Linked DNA regions of Homo sapiens: region 1 is linked to region 2. Evidence: fine-mapped expression QTL. A gene starts in region 2. The other region holds a variant in brackets. All regions are shown on one strand. Distances are from middle to middle.

The links. PIP is the estimated chance that this variant, and not a neighbour inherited with it, causes the effect. A credible set is the group of variants that fine-mapping cannot tell apart.
Region 1: its variant is the best candidate, but not a certain one, in a credible set for the expression of TNFRSF21 in monocytes after R848 (Quach 2016, PIP 0.78).

Annotation. Positions count from the first base shown.
Region 1 is chr6:47,135,831-47,141,211 of GRCh38, reverse strand. It overlaps LOC105375081 (a long non-coding RNA gene), which reads left to right and starts at 2,516. Exons shown (of 5, transcript XR_926864.3): 1 at 2,516-2,698; 2 at 4,823-4,885. The variant T/C (reference allele first, on the strand shown) is at 2,577.
Region 2 is chr6:47,307,563-47,312,943 of GRCh38, reverse strand. TNFRSF21 (TNF receptor superfamily member 21) reads left to right here and starts at 3,039. Exons shown (of 6, transcript NM_014452.5): 1 at 3,039-3,528. The coding sequence starts at 3,433. RefSeq lists enhancers at 2,777-3,071, 3,023-3,202, 3,366-4,088 and a silencer at 3,343-3,572.

The sequences.
Region 1 (5,381 bases), 170 kb after region 2:
ATGGTTAAATAAAATTTATGAGAGGCCATTGTTCTAGACTGAGCTCCTACAATAGGCCCCAAGAGACCAGACTAGACCAGAAAGGAGTCACTGGGGTTAGGCCAGTTTAAAACATCACCAACAAAAACCCAGGAGATTCACAACAGCCAATAGAAAAGGAGACCTGAGCCGGCATGATTAGGAAGTCCCTTCTGCTTTAACCCATACAGGGAAATGACAAATCTGCTTCTTGTTCCTTGTCTCCACTTTCTTGAGGCTTTTCTGCCTATAAGGCCCAGCCTCTCTGCTCAGCAGAGTGTCTTTCTATTTCATTGCTGGGAGGTTTCCCACTGCATGGATAACTAATAAAAGTCAATTCAATCTTCAAAACTCAATGTGTTGAAATTTTGTTCTTTGACAGTATTGACAGATATCTTTTCCAGAGCAATTGAATCGTGATGGTAGTGGTAATATAGGGAGGGAAAAAACAGGTGCCAAAAACCTCAGGGATGTAGAAACTAGTTCTTAATTTACAAATCTTGTATGTAAGACATAAAAGCTAACTGCAAAAAAACAAACAAAAACCCACAAAGCTGAATACATATAAGGTAGTACCTAGGTAAAATTTTGACTTTTACTGTGAAATTTTCTTCTTCTATCACCTTCTTCCTTCTACATGGCCTTTAGGATGAAGACAAGAATGCAGAGTTGGTGGAGAATCCTAACTGTATGGAGGAGTTGCCTCTTAAAAGCATCAGCATTTTTGAGTAATAATGATAAAAAATGAGGGAAAATTGTTGTAAGGCTTGGAGGAAGAGTTACTGTAATTCACCTCTGAGAAATCACCAAAGCTGATTGCAATTATTAGAATATTGGGAGCAAGGAAAGGGGTTTGACACCAGCTGTGCAAAACTTATTTTACAAACAAAATTCCTACTTGGAAAGTGCTAACTTTAACAAGGGATTTAATAATGCCCTCCATTCAGGGTGCATATAAAATATTTGTTTTCTATATTATTCCTAATAGTGGTTTTTCTTGAAGGACAGATCCTAGGAGATGTTATATCCCCAAATATTCAGAGTAGACTTTTATACTTCCACTATTTCCTTTTCCCAAAGACCGTTTATAGAAGCAATTTATGGGGATGGATGCAGTGGCTCACTCCTGTAATCCCAGCACTTTGGGAGACTGAGGCGGATCACTTGAGCCCAGGAGTTTGAGACCAGCATAGGCAACATAGCAAGACCTTGTCCCTATTAAAAAAGAAAAAGAAGTGATTTATGGATCAACCTAACCAAAAAAGTATGGTGAATGTTCTTTCTTTTTCAAGTTTATTGAGTGTGATGGGGAGCAGGATGAAAAGATCTGGAGGTCAGAGGAAGGGACTGAACTTGTGTGAAGGTCCCACTATGTGTCAGACCCATTGCTGTGTAACTTATCCTTTGCTATCCTTTGAGATAAGGGTTTTTATCCCAGTTTTACAAATGAGGACACCAAGGCGCTACACTGGGCCCAACACAAGATAGCTGTTTATCTGACTCCAAGATTGTACGCTGTCTTTCTGTTAGACAAAATTGCATTGCTAAAAGTATTGCTGTTGGTCTGTTCAAGTCTGGTTCCCATCTTTGAATTCCCCCTAGGAGCTCTCTTTCTTATTCCATGGGTTGTTTTCCTGTGTTGTGTGTCCTCATCCCCCAGCTAGCCTTTTCCTGAGCCCCTCCTTGGCCCCACGCCCGCCTTCCCTTTTTGCATTGTCTGTGCTGTTAGCAGTAATGTACTTAAGCCCCTCTCTTGGGATAGCTGTGAACCTCCTTGAAGGTCTTCTCTCCCCTTTGACTTCTGGCACTTAGAACCCCTTCTGCTTTTCATTTGGGATTTATATCCTGCCTTCTGTTGAGTGTTTCCTTCCATACAGTTCAGGTTTTATTGAGATCTCTAAGGAGATGTAAGACCCTGAGGACAGTGATGGTGCCTTAAGGCTCTTTGAAAGTCTCTACTTCAAGTATAAGACCTTGCAGAGTGGGTGCTTGTAAACACTTGTTAAATACATGACTACAACCCTTTACAAGTTTGTCCCATGTTCTTCTCTCCACCATTGAAATGAAAATAATGGGCCAGGGGCAGTGGGTCACACCTGTAATCCCAGCACTTTGGGAGGCCAAAGTGGGTGGATCACCTGAGGTCAGGAGTTCGAGACTAGCCTGGCCAACATGATGAAACCCCATCTCTATTAAAAATACAAAAATTAGCCAGGCATGGTGGCATGCCCCTGTGATCCCAGCTACTAGGAAGGCTGAGGTGGGAGAATTGCTTTAACCTAGGAGGTGGAGGCTGCTGTGAGCTGAGATCGTGCCACTGCACACCAGCCTGGGAGACAGAGCAAGACCCCATCTCAAAAGTAAATAAATAAATAATGAATTAATTAATTAAATAAAATGGATTATAAAAAATACTTCTTTTTTTCAGAATTCCTGCAAAAGAGATAACTTCTGGTAAATAAAAATTTTCCAAGACATGAATGAGTCATCAAGGTTTAATTTATTTCAACATTCATTCCTAAAAACAGTTTATTTGCTTTTCCGCAGGAAAATTTGCA[T/C]TCTCCCTGTTGTGGAAATAGGTGGGGATTTCGGGGCAGGCTGAAGAGGGAGCTATTTTTTTCAGAGATCTGCGCATTCCCCCTGTGAGGGAGGCTGACAAGGACCATGGAACTCAACCATTGTACGCAGTAAGACCACCACGCAAATGCAGCCACACTTTCTATGCTGCTCTTCCCCTTCGCTCTCTTCCTTGAGACTTCTCAGTACCACTCTGTTCTTCCTACCTACACCCCTTACTTCTCTCTATTTCTGCAAAGTGAGGTCTTATGGAGCTGGCCTGGTTTCAGCATCCTTGCTACCCCTTTCTAGAATGTTCCCAGAAGAGGAGAGTCACAACCAATCTTGCCTTTTCTTCTGCATGTCTCCAGTGACGTCTGGCTGGGCTCAGTCACTTCCTGGGTATTTTCCCACAACAGAAATCCTCGCGGTAACTCTGTAAAACCCAGCTCAGCTCCTATAACCGAGATGATACACTTTTTAAATTACGTTCTCATCATTTCCAATAAATTTCTTTCTAAAATACCACTTTGAAGACACGTAGCTTCCTATCATTATAATTTTTTTTTCATCTATTTGGTTCCAGGAATTGAATTTACTCACAGGCATCATTGCCCAACTTCATGTCTGAAGGATTTAAGACAAAGCTTTTCAATCTGAAATGACAGGCTGGAAAACCAAGTGCCAGTTTTCCACGCAAAAAATCAGAGATCCATGCAACAGCTTCTTTGGCTCTGGCAGAATGGGAAAATTAGTGATTGAACACTTCTCTGGGCTCAGCCCCCTCGCCCACCAATTTGTAAATTAGGCTGAGTTATTTGCATTTTTACAGTCTCAAACCGTTTGTAGAAACATGCCATTTTGCCTTTTTAAACCCAAATAATAACGTTGCAAGAATTTGGCAGTTAAATGACATCTAGCTCTCTGATTAAAGAGAGGAAAGGAAAGCCATTAGTCTCATATCCATCCTTAGTGGGGAAATACATCTTTAAGAAATTATGGCACAGAATAGTTCCATTTACAATCATTCAAGTTTTTTTTTTTCTGAGAAGTCGTGCTTGATATCAATTATCCATTTTTCCCTTCTCTTTGTGCTGTCCTCAGAATTCTTCCTGAGAAGTTAACTTTAATCTTCTGCTTTGTTTCAAAGCCTGTATTAGATTAACCTCTCTTTTTCTTTTTATTTGGGAATGACTAATTAGCAAGCAGAAATTAAATTTAAAAATTTAACTTCTCTGCACAGTAGATTTCTCAAGATCCTCAGACCCTGTAGGCAGTATGAATGGATTCTCCTGTAAAGCCTTTATTTCATGTTGTGTTGTGGTTTCCAGGAAGACAAAATGCACTTTGGACCACATCAACTTGAATAACATACTGGGTGCTCTAAATTGACTCTTCTGTCCCTTCAGGATGAGATTTCAGTGATTTTAAAGTCCAGAGTATTGGAAAGAGAAGAAGAAATTTTCATAGCCTGGTGGACAAAGGAATTTGATAGAAAATACTGTAGATAATTGTAGAATTCAGGACTAGAAAGCCCAGATATGTACAGGAACTTCTTTCTTTTAAAGATTAAGACAATGAGATGCAAACCTAATTATAGTCGAAGCCCGAAGGTTTATACAGGTCTGGTTCCATTTCCCTATTAGTACTTTCTCGAATGCACTATCCTCTGGATACAGGCACAGGAATGTATGATCCAGTTATATCAGCCTGGTCTAAATTTCAATTAATTGCGCCTTCTTACCAACTGTCACCCCAAGTATCCCTCAATACCACAGTTCATTCCTTTCTGATTTCCATTTTCTTCTTTTATCTTCCTTTCCCTCCCATCTTTTATTTTATTTTGCTCTGATTGTTTTCACTTAGTAAAAGCACCACCGTTTGTTGCTTCCTGGGGAATGGGCACTTCTCTCAATTGTGGCTCCCAGCCTCTGGTCTTTTCTGTCTCTTCTCAGGATCTACCCACATCTTTATCTCAAGCTTTCATTTCTCTCAGTCACTAGTCCAAAAGAACAAGGCTCCCTAACGCTTGCTACCAACAGGTGCCAGTAAAAGATGCCTCCCTTTGTTCTATATGAATTTAGATAAAATGTTTGTTTTACATATGAATTGGTATCAAAAAGCAAGTTGGTTCTGTCTAAGAAAGCAAAGGCCTGAATAAGAGCAAGGTAATAGATTTAAGGATGGAGATGATCATGATGATGCCATTGATAATTACAATACCTTGCATTTCTATTGTTCTTTCCAGCATGCAAAGCTCTTTCAATTTCATCATCTCATCCCACCATCACAACGCTGGGAGATCAGTTAGGTTCGTATTAGTTTTGCCATTTTATATGAAAGCCAAGTCTTAGGTAAGTAAACTGATGTGTCTCAGGACCTCACTCCAGGAAAGATAAAATCAGGTTGAAACCCATGTTTTAGGACTCTGAGCCCCAGAATGTTCTGCTTCTCTGGAATACAGTCTGATGAGATTGTGAATCAAAAAGATACCTCACTGCCCGGTAGTATAGGTAATTATATTATCACAAAGGTTTTGGGTAAACATAATGGAGAAAACAATGTTGACAGGCCGATAAAACGGGAATAGCTCACTAAAGGAGATTGTGTAATCTTTCCTTCATGGAGGATTTATCTGAAACAACAGGTTTCTAGTATTCCCTACAGCATTCCAAACCCTGTTTCCAGAAGGCAATTTGCCAATAGGTATCAAAAACATTAAAGGCATGACTAATGGTAACCTCAGACAAATGACTCAGCATCTCCAAAGTCAGTTTCCTCATCTGTAAATAGTAGGGTTTGGGGGA
Region 2 (5,381 bases):
GCCCATCCTATTCCTTTAATTCAGCCCACCCTTCGTTTCCCATAAGGGATGCTTTTAGTTAATCGAATATCTATAGAAACAATGCTAATGACTGGTTTGCTGTTAATAAATATGTGGGTAAATCCCTGTTCGGGGCTCTCAGCTCTGAAAGCTGTGAGACCCCTGATTTCCCACTTCACACCTCTATATTTCTGTGTGTGTGTCTTTAATTCCTCTAGCGCCACTGGGTTAGGGTCTCCCCAACGGAGCTGGCATTTTCCTGCCAACTTTCTGTCATTCCCTCATAGATCGGCTCAGGATGTTTGTCATGCAGCAGTCATTTCTCAAAATGTGGACAATTGTTATTTTCATTATAAAGAACATGAAATTTTACTAGACCTTCTGAAAGTGTGCAGGATAAGTTAAAAAAATAATTAAGACAAGATGGTAAATCTGGTGATTTCTTTTTTTTTTTTTTTTTTTTTTTTTGAGACGGAGTCTCGCTCTGTCGCCCAGGTCGGACTGCGGACTGCAGTGGCGCAATCTCTGGTGATTTCTTCAGTATCCAGATGTATATATCAGATTTTTAACAAGAAAGATAAAATAGAAAAAAATGAAAGGTTAGGAAAGCATTAATTGGAATGTACTAAGGACGAGGAAAGAATTAGCAATGATTTTTGAGGTTGGAAAACTAGAAAAATTGTACAACATTGGCAGAAAGAGAGAAAGTCCAAAGGTAGGATGGAGGGTGGAGATAGAGTAATTTTTATGGCAAAGATGACATTGGATTAACTCATTTAGGCCTTCCTTTAAAATTTAGCTATAATTATGATTTATCAACACATATCTCCTCTTTCCTTGGAACTTTGGGAGAAACTTCCTTATGTATCATTGAATTTTTATCCTTTCCCAGAAAACAGACATGTCTAAGTTACCACATTGAAAATGTGGCAATGAATTATTTAATGGTTGCAGCATTGTTACTTCAAAATGGAAGGCATGTATACATTTCAATTCAAAGTAATAAAATTTCACACTGCATCTAGATTCAAATTATCTATAATCTATCACTCTATAGAGGGACATGTATTTAAATGTTAGTAGTAAACAGAATTGAGTAAATTTTTTCATCTCTCAAAATGTATATTAAATTTCAACTTGATATGATCAATGGAACACCAGGAATTCATGAAGTTTCAAAGTGGTCCAAGCACAAATAAACAATTTTCTTTTAGTTTTAGGAAGACAAATAGTTGAGAAGAACTTCTTATACCTGCATAGTAACCCAGACACTAAACTCTAAAGTTGCCCAACTCTTTAGAGCAAATCAATCATATATTACCACGAAAAATGTGAGTTTGGATGCAAGGAGTAAAATGGACTAAATAAAAACGTATTTGAAGCTCCTCCTCCTCTTTAATACCTATGTAACTTCTTAAAAAAAAACAACCCAACCTTATAATAGTATTGGCCAGTCATTTGAATTTTTGAAGAAAAAATTGATACAGTTATGCATGAAAACACAGCATCTATCCCTCACTCTTTCAACTTCTGAAAATAGCTAGAGAGTGGCAAGTCCAACCATCATCCTTTCCCCAAAACTCCATAATTAATGGTAATATTTTCTAGAACTCCTTTGAATTTCACTAGAGGTTATATATTGTAGCTTTTTTCCCACTCTAACATTTATAGACAATACTGACAAATGTTTGAAATAATAGATTGGAATTAACCCTCATATTAATTTTAGCTTCTACCAAAGTGTGCATAGAGCAAAGAATCAAAGGACAACATGTTAACTAATAAAGCAAATAATTGGTACCTATGACTTAGCAAGTTACCTTTATTAGCACTGGGTGTTGGATCTTGAAACTGATAGTTTAAAAAGTGTGATTCTTTTGAAATGGGACCAAAGGAGCCTAGGATAAGCCCAGCACCATAGGGCTCCCAATTGAGGGGTGTGGACTGGATGGCTGAAGAGGTAATATCAATACAGTGTGCCATGTGCTGTCAGTACCTAGATGATGGATAACACGATACCAGAAATGGTGGCCACAGTCAGGAGACTCGGCCTTCCCCCAGGTGAAACAAAGAAAAGGATAACAGCTGCTCTCTTACATTCAGAAGTGTGTGAGATACCAACATCCACGAGAATATTCCAGTTCTCCTTCTGAAGCAGAATACTACCTATTCTACCACCCACATCCTGACAAGGCCTTTGGAAATCAACTCAAAAATTTTTAGCATTATTTTTTGGGGGAAGGGTGATTAAAAAAAATCTCAGGGATAATCCGATTCAAAACTCTTGATTTTTAAATTAGGAAAATGCATCTTTTGATACATTTCAAGGAGTTCAAAAGTCCCTCCAAGACCATCCATGGACCCAACACCAATGACTCTGGGTTTTAAATCCTTTTAGTTTGGATTTCCTTAATTGCATTCATAAGCCCATATTAAAATTAAAATATAAAAAATTAAAATCTTTGCCCCATATTAAAATCACCCTGAAAACTTAAAAAACAAACAAACAACAACAACAACAAACCTCAATGCCCAGACCAGATCCTGTCCTGTTCCAATTAAATCAGAGTCTCTAGAGGTGGGACCCAAGAATCAATATATATGTTTTGAACTCTCCAGGTGATTCCACAGGGCAGCAAAGTTTGAGAAGCAACACACAGGTCTCCTTTTTCGTCACGCAGTTGATCTAAGTGCTCTGTGGTCTATTCACCATCGCTCTCTGATTTAATCATCGTGTCCGAAACAATGGAAAGGCGTATGTAGCTGAAATAATTTAGTTGGAATTATCTCGGAAAAAATAAGTAAAGTTAGATCAGGAGTGAGATGCTTTCTCAGCGCTTTCCCTGGGTCAACAGGCGCGTGCAATTTCCTCAGCGAACGCCAAGGGGCACCCTCTCCCTCCCCGCTCTACCTGGAACGCCTTCGCCTTTCCAACCGCACAAAGAGCCCGGCCTCCTCCCGGGTGACATCACAAAGGGCCGGTCCCCCGCCCCTTCGGCGCCACCACGTGTGTCCCTGCGCCCGGTGGCCACCGACTCAGTCCCTCGCCGACCAGTCTGGGCAGCGGAGGAGGGTGGTTGGCAGTGGCTGGAAGCTTCGCTATGGGAAGTCGTTCCTTTGCTCTCTCGCGCCCAGTCCTCCTCCCTGGTTCTCCTCAGCCGCTGTCGGAGGAGAGCACCCGGAGACGCGGGCTGCAGTCGCGGCGGCTTCTCCCCGCCTGGGCGGCCGCGCCGCTGGGCAGGTGCTGAGCGCCCCTAGAGCCTCCCTTGCCGCCTCCCTCCTCTGCCCGGCCGCAGCAGTGCACATGGGGTGTTGGAGGTAGATGGGCTCCCGGCCCGGGAGGCGGCGGTGGATGCGGCGCTGGGCAGAAGCAGCCGCCGATTCCAGCTGCCCCGCGCGCCCCGGGCGCCCCTGCGAGTCCCCGGTTCAGCCATGGGGACCTCTCCGAGCAGCAGCACCGCCCTCGCCTCCTGCAGCCGCATCGCCCGCCGAGCCACAGCCACGATGATCGCGGGCTCCCTTCTCCTGGTGAGCGCTTGCGTGGACCGGGGGTGGCGGCGGCGCCGGAGCAGAAGGAACCGCTCTCCGGGAGCCGGGCGGGTCACCGGGCCGGGGCTTAGGGAGGCGCGGGGCCCGGCCGACTGGGTTACGGGCACTGAGGGGTTTCCAAGGGAAGGCAACACACCAGAGGGCCTCGACTAGGTTATTTGGGGGAATCTCAGGGCTCAGCCGGGGCTGGGGAATGAAGACGAATTGTTTTCCTTGCAGTCTGGCTTTGCTGGAGGAGACGCTAGAGGTAGCCGCCCAGCTTCTGCGCATTTGAGGGCTTTTCCCCCTACTCGGCCTACCTCGCGCTCCCCACGCCCGCAGCCACAGCCCCCCACCCATCGGCCACTGCCCCTCTGCGTGGTGTGGGGCCTCGCCGCGGTGTGGGGCTCCCACGGCCGGCCGAGGCCGGCGCTTTGTTGCAGCTGCAATGTCATGTCGGGATGCTACCGCAGTGGAAGACAGTGGTACCGGTGCGCGCCGGACACCGGAGACCTCCGGGTGCTGTCGCGCGGTGCATTCCCGAGCAGGGCGCAAGCCGCCCCCTCCTCAATCCCTTTACCCTCTCTCTTCCCTCTTGGCTCGGGTGGGGTCTCAGGTTCTGTATGCCGAAATATCACCCTTAGACCCACTCTCCGGCGCCTCCAAAGCGCCGGCTTCCAGCCAGCCAGCGCGCCGGCACTGGAATGGGGGGAGGGGGAAGGAGATGTGTGTGAAGGAAGATGAATTTTCTACAGTCTTTCCGATCCCTCGTTTACCTGTGGCTAGGCAGGTGACCCTGCAGGGTGGTGCAGTCTCCCTCATCGTCTAAGCTGCATCCACATCTCGGGTCAATCATCTTGACCAAAAACTTACCCTCAACTTCCCCCAAATTCCCTCCCTTTATTTCCAAATATTGGGGTGAAGGGGCAAGTTAGGTGGAAGAAAATTTGAGATCAAACCCTTGAGCTTCCCTTGCCTATCTTTTATCACTGCAGGAGGGATGGAAATTCTTAGCTAAAAACCGAACAAAAAAACCCCCAAGAAACAAGAGCTTGTTTTCACGACAGGGCTGTGTAAGGGAAAAGCAGGCTTGCTGTCTCCTTCCCCAAAAGGGCTTAACGCCTGGCCAGCCAAGAACTGCTTAGATCTCAGGACATTGCAGTTGCTATGGCCTGGGAATTCATCCTACAGACACTCTGGTTCCTTGTGTGTGTGTTTTAAGAGGAAGAGAGAGACTAAATAAAAGTTTGTTACTGTTAGCATTTATAATGAGGCAAGTCCCAGTCTCCCTTCAGAAACTCTTTTCTGCCCACTTATTAATGGCATGGCCAAGGTTTATATCTTTGAAACAAGTGAAACAAGTGTGGTGGATGGTAAGCAGTAGTCGGGGAGTCTCTTGGGACAATGAACCTGGATTGACAGTCTTGGTGTGGAGAGAAACACATCTAGGTCCATGGGAACACTGATCCTAGTTCAGTGGAGTGAGAACTATCATCATTTCCTTTTTCACAGCTTTAGATCCACTACTATCCACTACTATGTTTCAGGTGCTTCTAACACATCTGATTATTATATGCCTCACAGAGTCCATTCCCAGATTAAATCTTAAGTCATTGTGCAATACTCCATTTATTTTACCTTTTAGCATGAGGTAGGTAATTAAACAAAGGTCTTGATGTAATCAAATGGTAGGTTGCCTTAACTAACTGAGAAAGGGCCCAGCTCCTTTTCTTGAATCATCAGGCTAGGCACCCTGGCTTATGCCTGTAATCCCAGCGTTTTGGGCGGCCAGGGTGGGAGGATTGCTTGAGTCCAGGAGTTCGAGATTTGCCTGGGCAACATAGTGAGACCCC